Linked DNA regions of Homo sapiens: region 2 is linked to region 1. Evidence: fine-mapped expression QTL. Tissue or cell type: skeletal muscle. Region 1 holds a variant in brackets; the other region holds the start of a gene. All regions are shown on one strand. Distances are from middle to middle.

Region 1 (8,101 bases):
CCATCTGCCCCCCAGGCCCTGAACGCGCCTCACACCCCACCTTTTCCCACTGCAACAATGGATGCCTCAAAAGTCCCCGCCAAAGCTCTGACCCAGCCCCAGTCCTCTATGGTAAGCACCTCCTTCTAGTCCTCCCCAAAACTCCTGTCCATCTCCCTAGAGACACCTGTTCCCCCTTCTAACCCTGACCTTCCTTTTTCTGAGGCCCCTTTGGTTCCCCCTCTTTCCCCAACCCCAACTTTCCAAAAGAAAATGCCTCTCCTCACCCCCACCCCTAAGGTCACTATCCCTCCAGGTCTGCTCACCCCCTGTACCCCACTTTCTCTTTTCTGTAGACCTGGAATCCAGGCAATCCCTAAGTAGTGTGATTAAATCTTAGTAGTGTGGGCCACGCATGGTGGCTCACGCCTGTAATCCCAGCACTTTGGGAGGCCAAGGCCGGCGGATCACTTGAGGTCAGGAGTTTGAGACCACACTGGCCAACATGGCAAAACCCCATCTCTACTAAAAATACAAAACTTAGCCGGGTGTAGTGGCACACGCCTGTAATCCCAGCTACTCCGGAGGCTGAGGCAGGAGAATCACTTGAACCCAGGAGGCAGAGGTTGTAGTGAGCTGAGATCACGCCACTGCACTCCAGCCTGGGCAATACAGCGAGACTCAGTTTCAAAAAAAAAAAAAGAGTTCTCAGTTGTACTCAGGTCCATTGTACCATACTAGGCAGAAGTATGACTTCTTATTGTCTTATTTTATTTTGTAGAGACAGGATCTCCCTGTACCCCCGGCTGAAGCACAATGGCACAATCATAGCTCACTGCAGCCTTCAACTCCTGGGCTCAAGTAATCCTCCTGCCTCAGCCTCCTGAGTAGCCAGAACCACAGACATACACTACCATGCCCAGATAATTTTTTTATTTTTATTTTTTTGTAGAGATGGGGTCTCGCTACATTGCCCAGGCTGGTCTTGAACTCCTGGGCTCAAGTGATCCTCCCACCTCAGCCTCCCAAAGTGTTGGGATTACAGGCATGAGCCACTGTGCCCTGCCTATTTTATCTTTTAAAATCCTCATCCATGGAGAAATCAGCTCAACTCCCTGTTTCCCACTGGACGTTCTGTATGTGTGCTCTAATACATCTCCAGTGATTCCAAACGATTCCAGGATCGCTTTCTATTCTGGAGTGAAGAATGTTCCTCCAGCCTTTGGGAGCCCTTCTGGTACCCGCCTGCTCCAGGCTTTCCAGTTCCACACCTCCTCATTGTAGGCACTGTCTTGGCTGCATGCTGTAATCACGGAGGCAAGCTTGGAGAACGGTGTTGGCCCTGCAAGAAGAGCTTCAGCAGGGCAAATGGTCTTTGCACACAGGAACCATTTCCCAGTGTTGGCCTTGAATCACTCATGTGCCTTCCAGAATTTCAGAATCTTATCTATAACTCTCAGAATGAGTCTCAGGATAGAGTTAAACTCCTGTCGGAATGTAGTCATTTGGGGTTCTCTTGCCACCATAGGAACTGGGACCATCATCTGTGATGCTGCACCAGTGAAGTCTGTGCTGATAACCCATTAGGACTTGATGACACCAGGGCTGTATCATGACAAAGACTGCATATGCTGAGACCTCAAGAGTTGGATATGGTGTGTGGACGATGGCAATATTTATAAGAGCTTTTAATGCACTGAATCAGTATCTGCAGGCCTAGAGTCCTTAAATAATACAAGTATACTTTGGACTGCATGATGATCTGGAACACAGGATATTGGAGAAACTGGATTTCTTTTTTTTTTTTTTTTTTGAGACGGAGTCTCACCCTGTCACCCAGGCTGGAGTGCAATGGTATGATCTCGGCTCACTGCAACCTCCACCCCCTCAGGTTCAAATGATTCTCCTGCCTCAGCCTCCCGAGTAGCTGGGATTATAGGTACCCGCCACCACACCCAGCTAATTTTTCTAGTTTTAGTAGAGACAGGGTTTCACCATGTTGGCCAGGCTGGTCTCTAACTCCTGACCTCATGATCCGCCCGCCTTGGCCTCCCAAAGTGCTGGGATTACAGGTGTGAGCCACCGTGCCTGGCCCAGAATCAGGATTTCTGTACAAGCGTGGCACCCACGGAGCTAGAGATGCTGTCTCAGACCTAATACCCAATGGAACATCCAAGAATATGGCTCTAATTGCAGGGCACACCATACAAAAATGGAGGCGCATGGGGCCCAGCGCAGTGGCTCATGTCTGTAATCCCAGCACTTGGGGAGGCTGAGGAGGGTGGATTACTTGAAACCAGCCTGGCCAACATGGTGAAACCCCGTCTACTAAAAATACAAAAATTAGCCAGGAGTGGTGGTGCGCACCTGTAATCCCAGCTATTTGGGAGGCTGAAGCAGGAGAATTGCTTGAACCCAGGAGGTAGAGGTTGCAGTGAGCCAAGACCACGCCACTGCACTCCATCCTGGGTGACGGAGCAAGACTCTGTCTCACACACACAAAACAATGGAGCCACAGGGTCTCATCACAGAATGGATGGTCCTCACCTGTCATCTGTCCTCATAGCCAATGCAGGTACATGGCCTTCATCTGTAGGCAGAGCCCCGATTTCAACATTCTCACTCAGAAGCATGAATAACAGGGACAGAGGACCTATATAGATCTTGACACTTGGGCTGAACCTTGAGACATCTTGGCTTAAAGAACTGTATGTTTTGGACAGGCGCGGTGGCTCATGCCTGTAATCCCAGCACTGTGGGAGGGCAAGGCGGGTGGATCATTTGAGGTCAGGAGTTCAAGACCAGCCTGGCCAACGTGGTGAAACCCCGTCTCTACTAGAAATACAAAAATTAGCCGGGCAGTAATGGTGTGTGCCTGTAATCCCAGCTACTCGGTAGGCTGAGGCAGGAGAATCGCTTGAGCCTGGGAAGTGGAGGTTGTGGTGAGCTGAGATCGCGCCACTGCACTCCAGCCTGGGTGACAGACTGAGACGCTGTCTCCAAAAAAGAAAACCTGTATATTTTTAAACTATGATTTAAGGAGATATGTATGGGTGCTGTTATGGACTAAATGTCTGTGTCTCCCCCAAAATTCTTATGTTGAAACCCTAACCTCCAATGCAACTATATCTGGAGACGGTGCCTTTATGGAGGTAATTAAGGTTAATTGAGGCCGAAAGAGTGTGGCTGTAATCCAATGGGACTGGTGACCTTTTTTTTTTTTTTTTTTTTTTTTTTTCTGAGACAATCGTGTTCTGTCACCTAGGCTGGAGTGCAGTGGCATGATCACGGCTCACCGCAGCCTCAACCTCCCAGGCCCAGGTGATCCTCCCACCTCAGCCTCTTGAGTAGCTAGGACTAGAGGTATGCACCACCATGCCTGGCCAATTTGTTGTATTTTTTAGAGACGGGGTTTCACCATGT[T/C]GCCCATGCTGGTCTCGAACTCCTGGACTCAAGCGATCCACCATCCTCCCAAAGTGCTGGGATTATAGGCATGAGCCACCATGCCTGGCCTTCCTTATAAAGGGAAGAGATACCAGGGATCTCTCTCTCCGTGTCCCATGTGAGCGCACAGTGAAATGATGGCCCTCTGCAAGGCAGGAAAGCAGGCTACACCAGAAACAGAACCCTGCCAGAATCTGGATCTTTGTCTTTCCAGCCTCTCACAATTCCAGGGATTTTGAGAAGTAAATGTCTGTCATTTAAGCCACGCAGGGTGGTATTTTGTTAAGGCAGCCCTGACAAACTAAGACAGGTGCCAGGTTGACAAGAGATGGACCCTGATAGTCATGTTAATGTGTCAGCTTGGCTAGGCGAGATCCACAGTTATTCAGACACTAATCTAGATGTTGCCATGAAGGTTGGTTTGTTTGTGGTTTTTTTTTTTTTTTTTTTTTTTGAGACGGAGTCTCGCTCTGTTGCCAGGCTGGAGTGCAGTGGCACGATCTCGGCTCACTGCAACCTCTGTCTCCTGGGTTCAAGTGATTCTCCTACCTCAGCCTCCCAAGTAGCTGGGACTATAGGCACATGCCACCACGCCCGCTAATTTTTGTATTTTTAGGAGAGATGGGGTTTCACCATGTTGGCCAGGGTGGTCTCAATCTCTTGACCTCATGATCCGCCTGCCTCAGCCTCCAAAGTGCTGGGGTTACAGGTGTGAACCACTGTGCCCAGTCAAGGTTTGTTTTTTCTTTTCACCTTCTCAACCCAGCTTTTCCCCGACTCCAGGAAGAACTGGGAAGAGAAGGCCCCATGGAGGTATTTTCTTTTCTTTTCATTTTTTTGAGACAGAGTTTTGCTCTTGTTGCCCAGGCTGGAGTGTAATGGTGCAATCTCAGCTCACTGCAAGCTCTGCCTCCCGGGTTCAAGAGATTCTCCTGACTGAGCCTCCCGAGTAGCTGGAATTACAGGCGTCCACCAACACGCCGGCTTTTTTGTATTTTTAGTAGAGACGGGGTTTCACCATGTTGGACAGGCTGGTCTCGAACTCCTGACCTCAGGTGATTCACCTGCCTCGGCCTCCCAGAGTGCTGGGATTACAGGCGTGAGCCACCGCACCCGGCCCAGTGGAGGTATTTTCTGGATGTGATGAAAATCCATAATCAGCTGACTGTAAGTGGGAGAGGTGATCCTGCTTGTTCTAGGTGGGTCTCATTCAATCAGCTGAATGTTTTAAAAAGCAGATCAGAGACTTTTCGGATGAAGAAATTCCACCTGTGGACATCAGCTTCAGCTTGTGCCTGAGTTCCCACTTGCCCTTCCTGATAGGATGGATTTTTTTTTCTTTTTCTTTTTATTGTTTTGTTTTTGTTTCTGTTTTCAGAAGGAGTCTCACTCTATCACCAGGCTGGAGTGCAGTGGCACAATCTCGGCTCACTGCAACCTCCTCCTCTCAGGTCCAAGCAATTCTCCTGCCTCAGCCTCCCAAGTAGCTGGGACTACAGGCGTGTGCCACCACGTCCGGCTAATTTTTTGTATTTTTAGTAGAGACGGGGTTTCACCATGTTAGCCAGGAGGGTCTCAATCTCCTGACCTCGTGATCCACCCGCCTCGGCCTCCCAAAGTGCTGGGATTACAGGCATGAGCCACCGTGTCCGGCCTTTTTCCTGTTTTTGAGCCAGGGTCTCGCTCTGTCACCCAGGCTGGTGTGCAGTGGTGCAATCAGGGCTCACTACAGTGTCGAGCTCCCAGGCTCAAGTGATCCTCCCGCCTCAGCCTCCCAAGTGGCTGGGACCACAAGTGTCTGTCACCATGCTTGGCTAATTATTTTTTGTACAGGCAGAGTCTTGCTATGTTGCCCAGGCTGGTCTTGAACTCCTGGCCTCAAGTGATCCACCTACCTTTGCCTCCCAAAGTGCTGGGATTACTGGCCTCCCCCACTGTGCCCAGCCAGATTTGAGTTGCCTAGCCAGCCCACACAATTCTGTAAGCTGATTCCTTGCATATAAATATCTCAATATATATCTCCTCCTGGATGTTTCTCTGCTTGATCCCTAACTGATAGAGGCCCCACCCTCTTCCCCCGCCACCCTTCTGCTCCCCTAGGCTCTGTTCTTAAGCCCCTACTTGTCCCTCCCAGCTCCACCTCCTAGGCTCCGCCCCTAGACCTGAGCCCCGGCCCAGCCCCACCACTCCTTCCCCAAGCTCTGCTTCTGGGCCCATCCTTCTTCCCATTATTACTTCCTAGGCTGCGCCCCCAGCTCTGAGACCCGCTCCTCCTCCCCACGCTGTCCCCGTGCCAGGACCATTACGCTCCGCCCCCGGTGCAGAGCCCCGCCCCAGGCCCCGCCCCCAACCCTTTAGCTCTCACCATCGCACTTGAGGCCCTGGCGCACTAGGCCGAAGAGCATCTCCCCGCAGTGATCACAGAAGGCAGGCGCCCGATAGGAGTGCACCGTGAGGGCGTGCGGGCGGATCTGGAAGTCCTCGAAGGTGGCCGAGGCTGTAGGCGGAAAATAGGGGTGGATGCTTGAGGCGGGGTAGGCCAAAGCTTTTCCAGACCCCACGTTCCCTGATTTCTCACAGTGCTCCCAGCCGCAAGGTGTGATCTTTCCTTCCTTCCTTCATTTGCTCTCATACTACATTCTGCCTGGGTTCAAATCCCAGCTCCACCCCTGAACAAAACACATATATCCCTACGCCCTGGGCAGGGACAGAGCGGGAATTGGGGAGTTGTTTAACGGGCAAGGAGCTTCAGTTTCGCAAGATGACAACAGTTCTGGAGACCGGCTGCACAACAGTGTGCGTGAACTTTAAATTACTGAACTGTACGCTTAAAAGTGCTTAAAATGTTGTGGGCTTTTTTGTTTGTGTTTGTTAGAGAGTTTCACTCTGTCACCCAGGCTGGAGTACAGTAGTGAGATCTCGGCTCACCACAAGTCCGCCTCCCGGGTTCAAGCAGTTCTCCTGCCTCAGCCTCCAGAGTAGCTGGGATTACAGGCATGCGCCACCACACCCGACTAATTTTTGTATTTTTAGTAGAGACGGAGTTTCACCATGTTGGCCAGGATGGTCTCAAACTCCCGACCTCAGGTGATCTGCCCGCCTCGGTCTCTCAAAGTGTTGGGATTACAGGCGTGAGCCACTGCACCCGGCCTAAAATAGTAATTTTTATGTTATGTATATTTTACCAAATTAAAAAATTTTTAATTAAAAATACCACCACCAACAACAAAAAAGAACATGGATAGGCGGTGCCCGGTGGCTCACATCTGTAATCCCAGCACTTTGGGAGGCCCAGGTGGGCGGATCACTTGAGGTCAGAAGTTCGAAACCAGCCTGGCCAACATGATGAAACCCCGTCTCTACTAAAAATACAAAAATTAGCCAGGCCTGGTGCCGCGTGCCTGTAATCCCAGCTACTCAGGAGGCTGAGGCAGGAGAATTGCTTGAACCCGGGAGGCAGAGGTTGCCGTGAGCCAAGATCATGCCACGGCACTCCAGCCTGGGTGACAGAGTAAGATTCTGTCTAAAAAAAAGAAAAAAAAAAAAAGCCCAGTGTGGTGGTGCATGCCTGTAATGCCTATAGTCCAGCCACCTCAGGAGGCTGAGGCGGGATGATTGCTTCAGTCTGGGAGGTAGAGGCTGCAGTGAGTGGTGGTCATGCCACTGCATTCCAGCCTGGGTGACAGAACAAGACCCTGCCTCAAAACAAAATAACAGGGCCGGGAGCGGTGGCTCACACCTGTAATCGCAGCACTTTGGGAGGCTGAGGTGGGCAGATCACTTAAGATCAGCAGTTCGAGACCAGCCTGGCCAACAAGGTGAAATCCCGTCTCTACTAAAAATACAAAAATTAGCCACGTGTGGTAGCAGGCGCCTGTAATCCCAGCTACTCGGGAGGCTGAGGCAGGAGAATCGCTTGAACCCAGGAGGCAGAGGTTGCAGCAAGCTGAGTTTGCGCCACTGCACTCCAGCCTGGGTGACAGAGCGAGACTCCGTCTAAAAAAACAAAAAATAATAAAAATGACAAAAACAAAACAAAACTCAGGTTTAGGGGAGAGACAACAATGAAGATAAAAATTCAAGTGAGGCCAGCTTATGATATGAAAGAGTACTTAAAGCCTGAACAAGGTCACTAAAGGTGTAAATCCAGACTTCTGTCATTCATTCATTGAGCCGGTTTCACTGGGCACTGCAGTATGCCGGAGCAGCAGGGAAGGCAGCCATGAAAAAGGCAGCTGCCCCCACCCTCAAGAGGGACCAAGGGCCATAGACTGCTCTAAGGTGCTGAGAGCATGCCCATCTATACTACTGGAATAGTGAGTGGATGAACTGGCTTCTGGCTGTGTCTTAGAAAATCACCTGGGGGCTTTTAAAAATACTGATGTGCAGATTCCATCTCACTTTGCAGAGATTCTGATTTAATTTAGCATTTTCGTGGCAGGAGCCATGGACATCATAACTTTTTTTTTTCTTTTTCTACTTTTTTTCTTTTTTAGAGATAGGGTCTCTCTCTGTTGCCCAGGCTGGAGTGCAGTGACATGATCGTGGCTCACTGCAGCCTCAAACTCCTAAGCTCAAGAAATCCTCCCACCTCAGCCTCCCAAGTAGCTGAGACTACAGACGTGTGCCACCTCGCCCGGTTAACTTTTTTTTTTTTTTTTTTTTTTAAGAGATGGGG
Region 2 (8,101 bases), 36 kb after region 1:
TAGGCCGGGGCAGTGGACACAGTAGTGGTCTATCTGTGGGGGCAGGAGGTGGAGTTGGGCATCCCAACCAGACCTGTCACTGGCTGGGTTCCCCCTTCATCCCTCTGCTGCCTCATCGAGCTGTGGTCTCCCTCCTCCTAATGAGGATGTGAGGGTCTCAGCTGCCCACTCTGCTTTGCTGTCCCTTTCCCAGTGCCTCTGGAAAGAGAACCAGAAAGACATGGTTGGAGCATCTCAGGGAGGTGGAAACCCACCAAAAACGGGAAGCGTCAGTGGCCAGTCTCTCCCTCGCTGCAAACGCCAGCAGCCCCCACGGGCTGTCTGGTCTGCGAGGGCCAAGGTAGGCCTGAGGGTCGGTCGGGGATCTGGAAGTGCCGCTCACCATATCCACCCACTGCCACTCCCTCTAGCCAGAGCCGCAGAGCATGCGCTCCCAAAACCTTCTGATACCTGGCAGCTACTGCCTCTCCGCCCCTCCAGCTATTCCCAGCAAGGCGACATCTAAAGGCTTCGGAGGAGTCCCAGCAATTCAGTCCTCCCAGGAGCTGATGCCTCTCTGAATTCGCTGCTTCCTGTCCCAGCTAGCTGGGAAGAGTCCCCGTTTCGTGCCATCTAGCCCTGCATCTCCTAAGGGCCTCCTTCCCAAGCTTCAGCAGCTGCTGGCAGGAATGGGCCCCCAGGAAGCTGAAGTGGGCAGGGGCAGCTCCGCACATTCTCTGCTGGCACCGCACTCACTGCAGGTCCCTGTCGCTGCTCCTATACAAATCTCCAGTTCAGATCCCTCATTAAAAGGTCCCTCCCATCCTCAAAAAGCTTCCCCTCTCAGAGTTGCCACAGAACAGGGGCAGAGCCACACAATCAACTGTGCATGAACATCTACAGCTCTGCGGTCCCCTGCACAAACAAGCTTCCTCTGCCAGCCTGGAAGTTTCGGATGGGCAGAAACCACGTTACTTACTTCTCAGAATCCCCCACCTAGCAAATGCCTGCTCATTATCAGACTGCAGCTCCGCCACCTTCCTGCTCCAAACTTATGGTGACTACTGGCAGGACCTCCCTGGGGGCTGCCTTCTCTGCCATTCAACACACAGGTACCAAGCAGGGTCGCACGGCAGGTCTTCTGCTAGGAGCAGCTGTATTAAGCTCTTCAGAGAAAAGTTATTCAGAGTCCATCAGGAAAATCTGACACTGCCTAGCTCTTAAGGGATCTCACAGGGGAAGTCACACCGTCTGTTAGCACTAAGTGTTCAAGTAAAGGTGTGTAAAAGAGGTGCCGCTGATGGGAGAGTAAACTGGTGGGTCAATGTGGCAGAGTCATTCACTGTTTCTTTTTTTATTTTTATTTTTTTTGAGATGGCATCTCGCTCTGTCACCAAGGCTGGAGTGCAGTGGTGTGATCTCGGCTCACTGCAACTTCTGCTTCCCGGGTACAAGCGATTCTCCTGCCTCAGCCTCCCGAGTAGCTGGGACTACAGGCGCCCACCACCACGCCCGACTAATTTCTGTATTTTTAGTAGAGGTGGGGTTTCACCATATCGGCCACGCTGGTCTTGAACTCCAGACCTTGTGATCCACCTGCCTTGGCCTCTCAAAGTGCTGGGATTACAGGCGCGAGCCACCGCGCCCAGCCCAATCACTGTTTCATAAACACATCCATTCTACTATTCCACTCATCTGTTCTGCTTCATTCTTGCACAGGAATAAGGGGTTCTCACTGCAGCCATGTCTGATGGGGGAAAAACTAGAAAAAATCTAAAAGTCCACCAACCAGGGTCAAACTCAATCAGCTATGGTGCAAACATCCCGTGGGACGCTATGCAGCTATCAAAAAGAAAGAGTTCTCTGTGCTGATATGAAAGGAAAACCAAAACAGATTATTATGTCACAAAATGATACATACAGCAGTAGTTCATCTATTACATAAGCACAATAACTCTTCTCTCTCAGGAGAGAAGAGCAGGAAAGGGACGAAGAGAAGGAACTTTCCTTTTTCACTTACATATATATGTGTATACACACACTCACACACACACACACACCCCTCTGAGATGTCTGAATTTTTACTAACTTAACAGAATAAAAGAAAACAAAAGTACAAAGTGACAGTGCTGGTACCATGCCAGACACAAGTTCCTCTCAAACTCCAAGAAGGGTCAGTAAGTGAGGGGATAAACATCTTTTCTCTCATCAGCCTCCAGGATGAGAAGATGGTGTGGTGGGTGCTGTGCGGTGCACTGGTGCAAAGTCCCAGAGGCCAAGATTCAGTCCAAGCTCTGCTATGACTGCTTGGGTGACCCTGGGGAGGCCACTATGCTTGCCTGAACCAATTTTCTCAACTGTACTGGGTAGCAGAGAGGTACAGAACATGGGCTTAAAAGTCTACCGACGGTCGGGCATGGTGGCTTATGCCTGTAATCCCAGCACTTTGGGAGGCCGAGGCAGGTGGATCTCTTGAGGCCAGGAGTTCGAAACCAGCCTGACCAACGTGGCAAAACCCCATCTCTACTAAAAATACAAAAATCAGCCAGGCGTGGTGGTGGTGCACACCTGTAATCCCAGCTACTTGCGAGGCTGAGGCAGGAGAATCGCTTGAACCTGGGAGGCAGTGGTTGCAATGAGCCAAGATCATGCCACTGCACTCCACCCTGGGTGACAGAGTGAGACTCTGTCTCAAAAAAATAAAAATAAAAATAAATAAATAAATAAATAAATAAACAAAAGGTCCACCACAGACCAGCCCTTCTGCTCATCTGCTGGGATCCTAGATAAATCACCCTCTCAAAACCTCCATTTCCTCTCCTGATTTTTTTTAAAGGTAGGGGGAATATCCTTTATCCTCCCAGAATGCTGCAAGAATTAAATGACAGCTCGTATCTACAGTACTTGATACAGCGCCCCAGACATGGTATGTGCTCACTAAATTGCAGCTGGTACCGTTATTGCTGAGTGAGGTAATGACACTGCCTCTGCCTACATCACAGGGCATTGTGAAGATCTGATGAGATGTATGCTGGGAAAGAGCTTCGGAAGTAGAGAGTGGGACAGAAGTGAGAGCAGTTACATAAGGATTCTGCTCCCATCCCAGCCCCAAGCCTCAGCCACCACAAGTGAGGGCAGGGGGAGAGTTACTGGAGGGTCTTTACTCATCCTATGAACAAAATGCTTTTTTTTGAGACAGGATCTCACTCTTTTGCCCAGGCTGGAGTGCAGTGGTGCAATCATGGCTCACCGCAGCCTCAACCTCCGGGGTTTAAGCAATCCTCCCACCTCAGCCTCCTGAGTAGCTGGGACTACAGGCGCATGTCACCACACCCGGCTAATTTTTGTACTTTTTTGTAGAGATGAGGTCTTGCTATGTTGGCCAGGCTGGCCTCGAACTCCTGGGCTCAAGGGATTCTCCCACCTCAACCTCCCCAAGTGTTGGGATTACAGGCGTGAGCCACCGCACCCCATCCCTACCGACACAATTCTCATCAGCTATTTATTTGGGTACCAGCTTCCTACTAGATAGCAAACGGCAAATCGGAAGGGGAAAGGTGGGCTGCTACAAGCAGGTAATGACAATTTCTGCTAATAATAACCCAGTCCAAGAATCTTCAGACTTCCAGCGGGCCATTCCTGATCCCTTCAAATCCGGACATCTCCATGGTCCTCCAGTCACTGCCAATGGACCTGACGCTCCACGAGGTCACAAACCCTAGCCCAACTCCTCAGACTCTTCCATTCAACATCCCTGTCCCAAGCTACCCCAAAAACCACGGGGTCTTTTCCCAAGACTTCCACAAACATATCCCCTTCCCCCCAACCCCAGTCTACCCCCGTTCCGAGATGCCTCCTCATGTTGCCTTCGGGCTCTACAAAATTCTCCCCCCTAAAGCATCACCCCAGGGTAACCCCTAACTCGTCCTCATTGGCACCATCCCAGGACCCTCACCTCCATACTGGACATGCCCAACACCCCACACTCCAGTTCAGGGCTCTCTACCTACATCCTACAACACACGTGCCATCTCAGTGCCATCGCGCCCACTCCTGCACACCCCCAAAGTGGAACTTCCACTCTTAAGCTCTCCCATCCAGGCTCCTAGGGTACATTCCCTGCTCTGTCCACACTTCCACTCCAAAGAACCCTTCCCTGCACTGTGCAGCCACACATGCCCGGGATCCCCAAAGTTTCTCCTCAGAGGGGAAGGCACACACCTTCATCCTGGACCCCTTGAAACCCTCCTCCCACCCCTCGGGTCCTTACACAGCCCTCCTTCCGTGCCCACCGTCCAGTCGCCCCGAAACACACCGATCCCAGGTTCCCGACTTCCTCTCCCTAAATCCTCCCGGTTCCCCATCTGGACCCGCTCTTTCCCAGCGGGTCCCAAGTTCCCCCCTTGGACGCTCCCACCTCCAACCTGCACCTGGCTAGGGCCATGGTCGGGGTCGGGGTCGGGAGTCCCTCGGCGCCCGGCAAGCTTCTGCTTACTCCCACAGGAGACCACTCAGGTCTCCCAGACCCCTCCAGCTCCTCTCCACACCCTTTCCCGAGTTCTCTTAGCCTCCCCTCCAGGGCTCGAGTCGCCTCTCTCAGGAGCCCCGCGGCCAGCGTGCTCAGTCCCAGTCCCAGTCCCACTCCCAGCTGGTTGTGGTCCCTCCGCCCCTTTCTCTCGGCCGGTCCCGGTGATCCCTCCCACCCCCGGTCCCTCCACTCCCACCTCGGGCCGTCCCGGTCCCGTCCCACCCCGGAGTGCCCTCAGGACACCCCTCGGACGGCCCCTCACTCGCCCTCCGGGACCGTCGCGGTCCCCTCCCGCCCCCCCGCCGGCCGTCCCGGCGGCCATTGCTCCAAGATGGCGGCGGCGGCGGCAGCGGGTGAGGCCGGGCCGGGCCGGGCCGGGTTGGGGGTCGGGGGTCCCGGGACAGCGCTCACCTGTAACTCGGCGCGCTCGGCCTCCCAGCGGGCTTTCTCGGCTTCGAAGCGCGCCCACTCGTGCTGGATAAAGTGCAGGATCCCCGGCAGGCTCAGGGGCTCCGGGCCCGCCGTGGGCCCGGGGCTGCCTCCGCCGCCGCCTCCCTTACCTGCCGGGCCCGGCCCGGGGGCAGGGGCGGAGACCGGGGCCGCCCCAGTGGGGCCAGGGCCCGCGCCTGAGCCGAGCGGACGGCAGGAGGAGGCGGCGGCGGCGACCGCGGCGGCCGCTCGCTCCTCCATCATGGAGGCCCCGGGGCCGGCCTGCGCGCCCGCTGTGCCTCGCGCGCCTGCGCGGCCGCGCCAACACCCCCCCCCCTCCCCCGCCGCAACCACCGCGCGCGCGCCCGGCGGGGGACAGTAGGAAGGGGGGCCGGCGGCGAGCGCGAGCCTCGCCCACCCGGGTCTACACCGAAGGGTAGCGTGCCCGCGCGGGGGCCGGCGGGTGGGAGATCGCGCCCCGAGGAGGGCGAGGGAGACCCAGGCCCCGCGCGACGGTCCCCCTCGCTGGAGTGAGACTGAGGAAGGGGCCGCTTTCTGCCCCCCTCCTCCCACTTCGCCCCAGAGAAAGAGCCTTACCCCTTCCACACCCAAACACCACTCTCCTGGACAATTACTTTTACTCTGAGAGAAAGGGCGACCAGCAGTGGCCCCATCCTCTCTGATTGCCGGCCAGGTTGGTTGTCATGGTAACCCTTCCCCAGCGGTGGGGGCGAGGTGGTGGGGAGCAGCCTTCCCCTCGCTTCCACCTTTGTGGTTATGGAGCCCCAAACCTCTTAGGACTCTGCACCAGGAGAAGGTTGCTAAGGTAACCTAAGTGTCCGTGGTGGTCCTTCTGCTCCTATCCTCATTGATTACTATGGCAACCTCCCCCCCACCTAGCATTCAGGTAGAAAGGACCCCAGCCCCAAGGACACTGATCTCTAAGAGAAGCACCTCTTCCCCAGCCCCTCCCCCATAGCCACCTAGTTGGCATTACCATGGTAACCGTCTTCCCCTTCCCATCGTGGGAGGCCCATGCACCAAACTAACCAGGTGTTTTTATTTAGAGGAGATGCTCTGCTGAGGGGCAGTTGCTATGGTTACAGGGCCTGGACCTTCCTCCGGAAGGTGAGAAACAGGCAAGTTCAAGGCCTGGTTACTATGATAATAGAGCAGCCCCCTTCGAGTGACCCTAGGAACCAAGCCCAACAAAGGAGGGGATTTTTTTTTTTTTTTTTTTTTTTGAGACAGAGTGTAACTCTTGTTGCCCAGGCTGGGATGCAATGGCCCAATCTCGGCTCACCACAACCTCCGCCTCCCCGGTTCAAGCCGTTCTCCTGCCTCACCCTCCCAAGTAGCTGGGATTACAGGCATGCGCCACCACGCCCGGCTAATTTTTTTTTTATTTTTAGTAAAGACGGGGTTTCTCCATGTTGGTCACGCTGGTCTTGAACTCCCGACCTCAGGTGATCTGCCTCAGGCCCGCCTCGGCCTCCCAAAGTGCTGGGATTACAGGTGTGAGCCATCACGCCCGGCCAGGGGATGTTTTAAGAATGTCTCTCAGAGGTAGAGTGTGTCTATGGAAGGGGTTGTCATGGTAACAGCTTCTGTTGGCTTCTAGCCCTACCTTTTCTGGACACATTCATGCTAGAGGGATGGTTATAGGTTGCTATAATAACTGACATCCCTCCCATTCACCCCACCCCACTCCTGAGACACCCCAGGTGGTGCCCGAGATTATAGGACTTCAAGAGAAAGGATTCCCTGACCTTTCTCTTGCCACTTTTGTGGATAAGATGAAATTGTGCTCTATTGTACGGAAATGGCTGATTTGGGATTTTCTGGTTCTCCTCCTCTCAGGAGCGCAGCTCAGCTGGGCTGGAACTGCCCTCCTGGAACTCCCCCAGCCTACAACCTAGGAGGTAAGAAGTCCCTCAGTGTCACCTACACTCTCATGGAAACTGCCCTTCCTCATTCCTTAAGGCTTTCCCATGTCTCTCATTTTTTTCTTTTTCTTTCTTTCTTTTTTGAGACGGAGTGTCGCTCTGTTGCCCGGGCTGAAATGCAGTGGCGCGGTCATGGCTCACTGCAACCTCCACCTCCCTGGTTCAAGCGATTCTCCTGCCTCAGCCTCCCGAGTAGCTGGGATTACAGGCACCTGCCACCACGCCCGGCTAATTTTTTGTATTTTTAATAGAGATGGGGTTTCACCTTGTTGGCAGGCTGGTCTCGAACTTCTGACCTCGTGATCCGCCCGCCTCGGCCTCCCAGAATGCTAGAATTACAGGCGTGAGCCACCGCGCCCAGCCCTCTCATTTTTTTCTAACCGTCACATTCCCATTCCACAGGTGCAGGGACTGAGGCTCAGGCCAAATCGCAACTCAGACCCAGTGAACCCAAGGCCTGAAGAGAATTTGGATTCATTTACCTTGTTTTGTGGGGACTGGAGAGACAAGTAAACTCTCAGAGTAACTGTCCCCTCTGACTACCATTTCTAAGGCAAGCCCCCTGTTTCTACTCTTGCGCCCCCTGCTGGTTTCCTGCCCTGTCTGTAAGTTGCATGGCTTTTGTCCGTCTTTTTTTTGTTTGTTTGTTTGTTTTGAGACAGGGTCTCACCCAGGCTAGAGTGAAGTGGAGCAATCTCGGCTCACTGCAACCTCCGCCTCCTGAGTTCAAGTGATTCTCACACCTCAGCCTCCCCAATAGCTGGGATTACAGGTGCGCACCACCATGCCCAGCTAATCTTTGTATTTTTTGGTAGAGAGGGGGTTTCACCATATTGCCCACGCTGGTCTCTAACTCCTGACCTCAGGTGATCTGACCGCCTGGGCCTCCCAAAGTACTGAGATTACAGGTGTGAGCCACCACACGTGGCCCTGTCAGTCTTCTTTCTGTCTTCTGGAGGGCTGACCTAATGAGTACCTCGTTCATTCTGTATCCTCAAAACATGGGGTCCACCACAAAGAATACTTGAGTTTGTTGAGTTACTGAGTTGAATTAATTTATTAATGTGCCATAGCCAAGCTTTGAAAGCCCCTGTCAGGTTAGGGCTGGGGAAGGCTCACTAAAGATGGGCTGAGAGTTGGGGCTTCAGAAAGAACCCAAGAGAGAAGGTAAAGTTTACTGGTTTAAAGTACGACTCTGTAGCCAGCTTCTTGGATCAAC

The links. PIP is the estimated chance that this variant, and not a neighbour inherited with it, causes the effect.
Region 2: it holds the start of FKRP, and the variant in region 1 is fine-mapped to the expression of FKRP in skeletal muscle (FUSION, PIP 0.95).

Annotation. Positions count from the first base shown.
Region 1 is chr19:46,705,119-46,713,219 of GRCh38, forward strand. It overlaps PRKD2 (protein kinase D2), which reads right to left. Exons shown (of 18, transcript NM_016457.5): 3 at 5,789-5,920. It overlaps MIR320E (microRNA 320e), which reads right to left and starts at 4,236; the gene lies at 4,164-4,236. RefSeq lists an enhancer at 4,731-5,549. The variant T/C (reference allele first, on the strand shown) is at 3,403.
Region 2 is chr19:46,741,231-46,749,331 of GRCh38, forward strand. It overlaps FKRP (fukutin related protein), which reads left to right and starts at 4,827. Exons shown (of 4, transcript NM_024301.5): 1 at 4,827-4,860; 2 at 6,797-6,858; 3 at 7,285-7,435. It overlaps STRN4 (striatin 4), which reads right to left and starts at 5,220. Exons shown (of 18, transcript NM_013403.3): 1 at 4,919-5,220. The coding sequence starts at 5,200. RefSeq lists silencers at 4,766-4,995, 5,206-5,255, 5,266-5,415, 5,456-5,555, 5,596-5,645.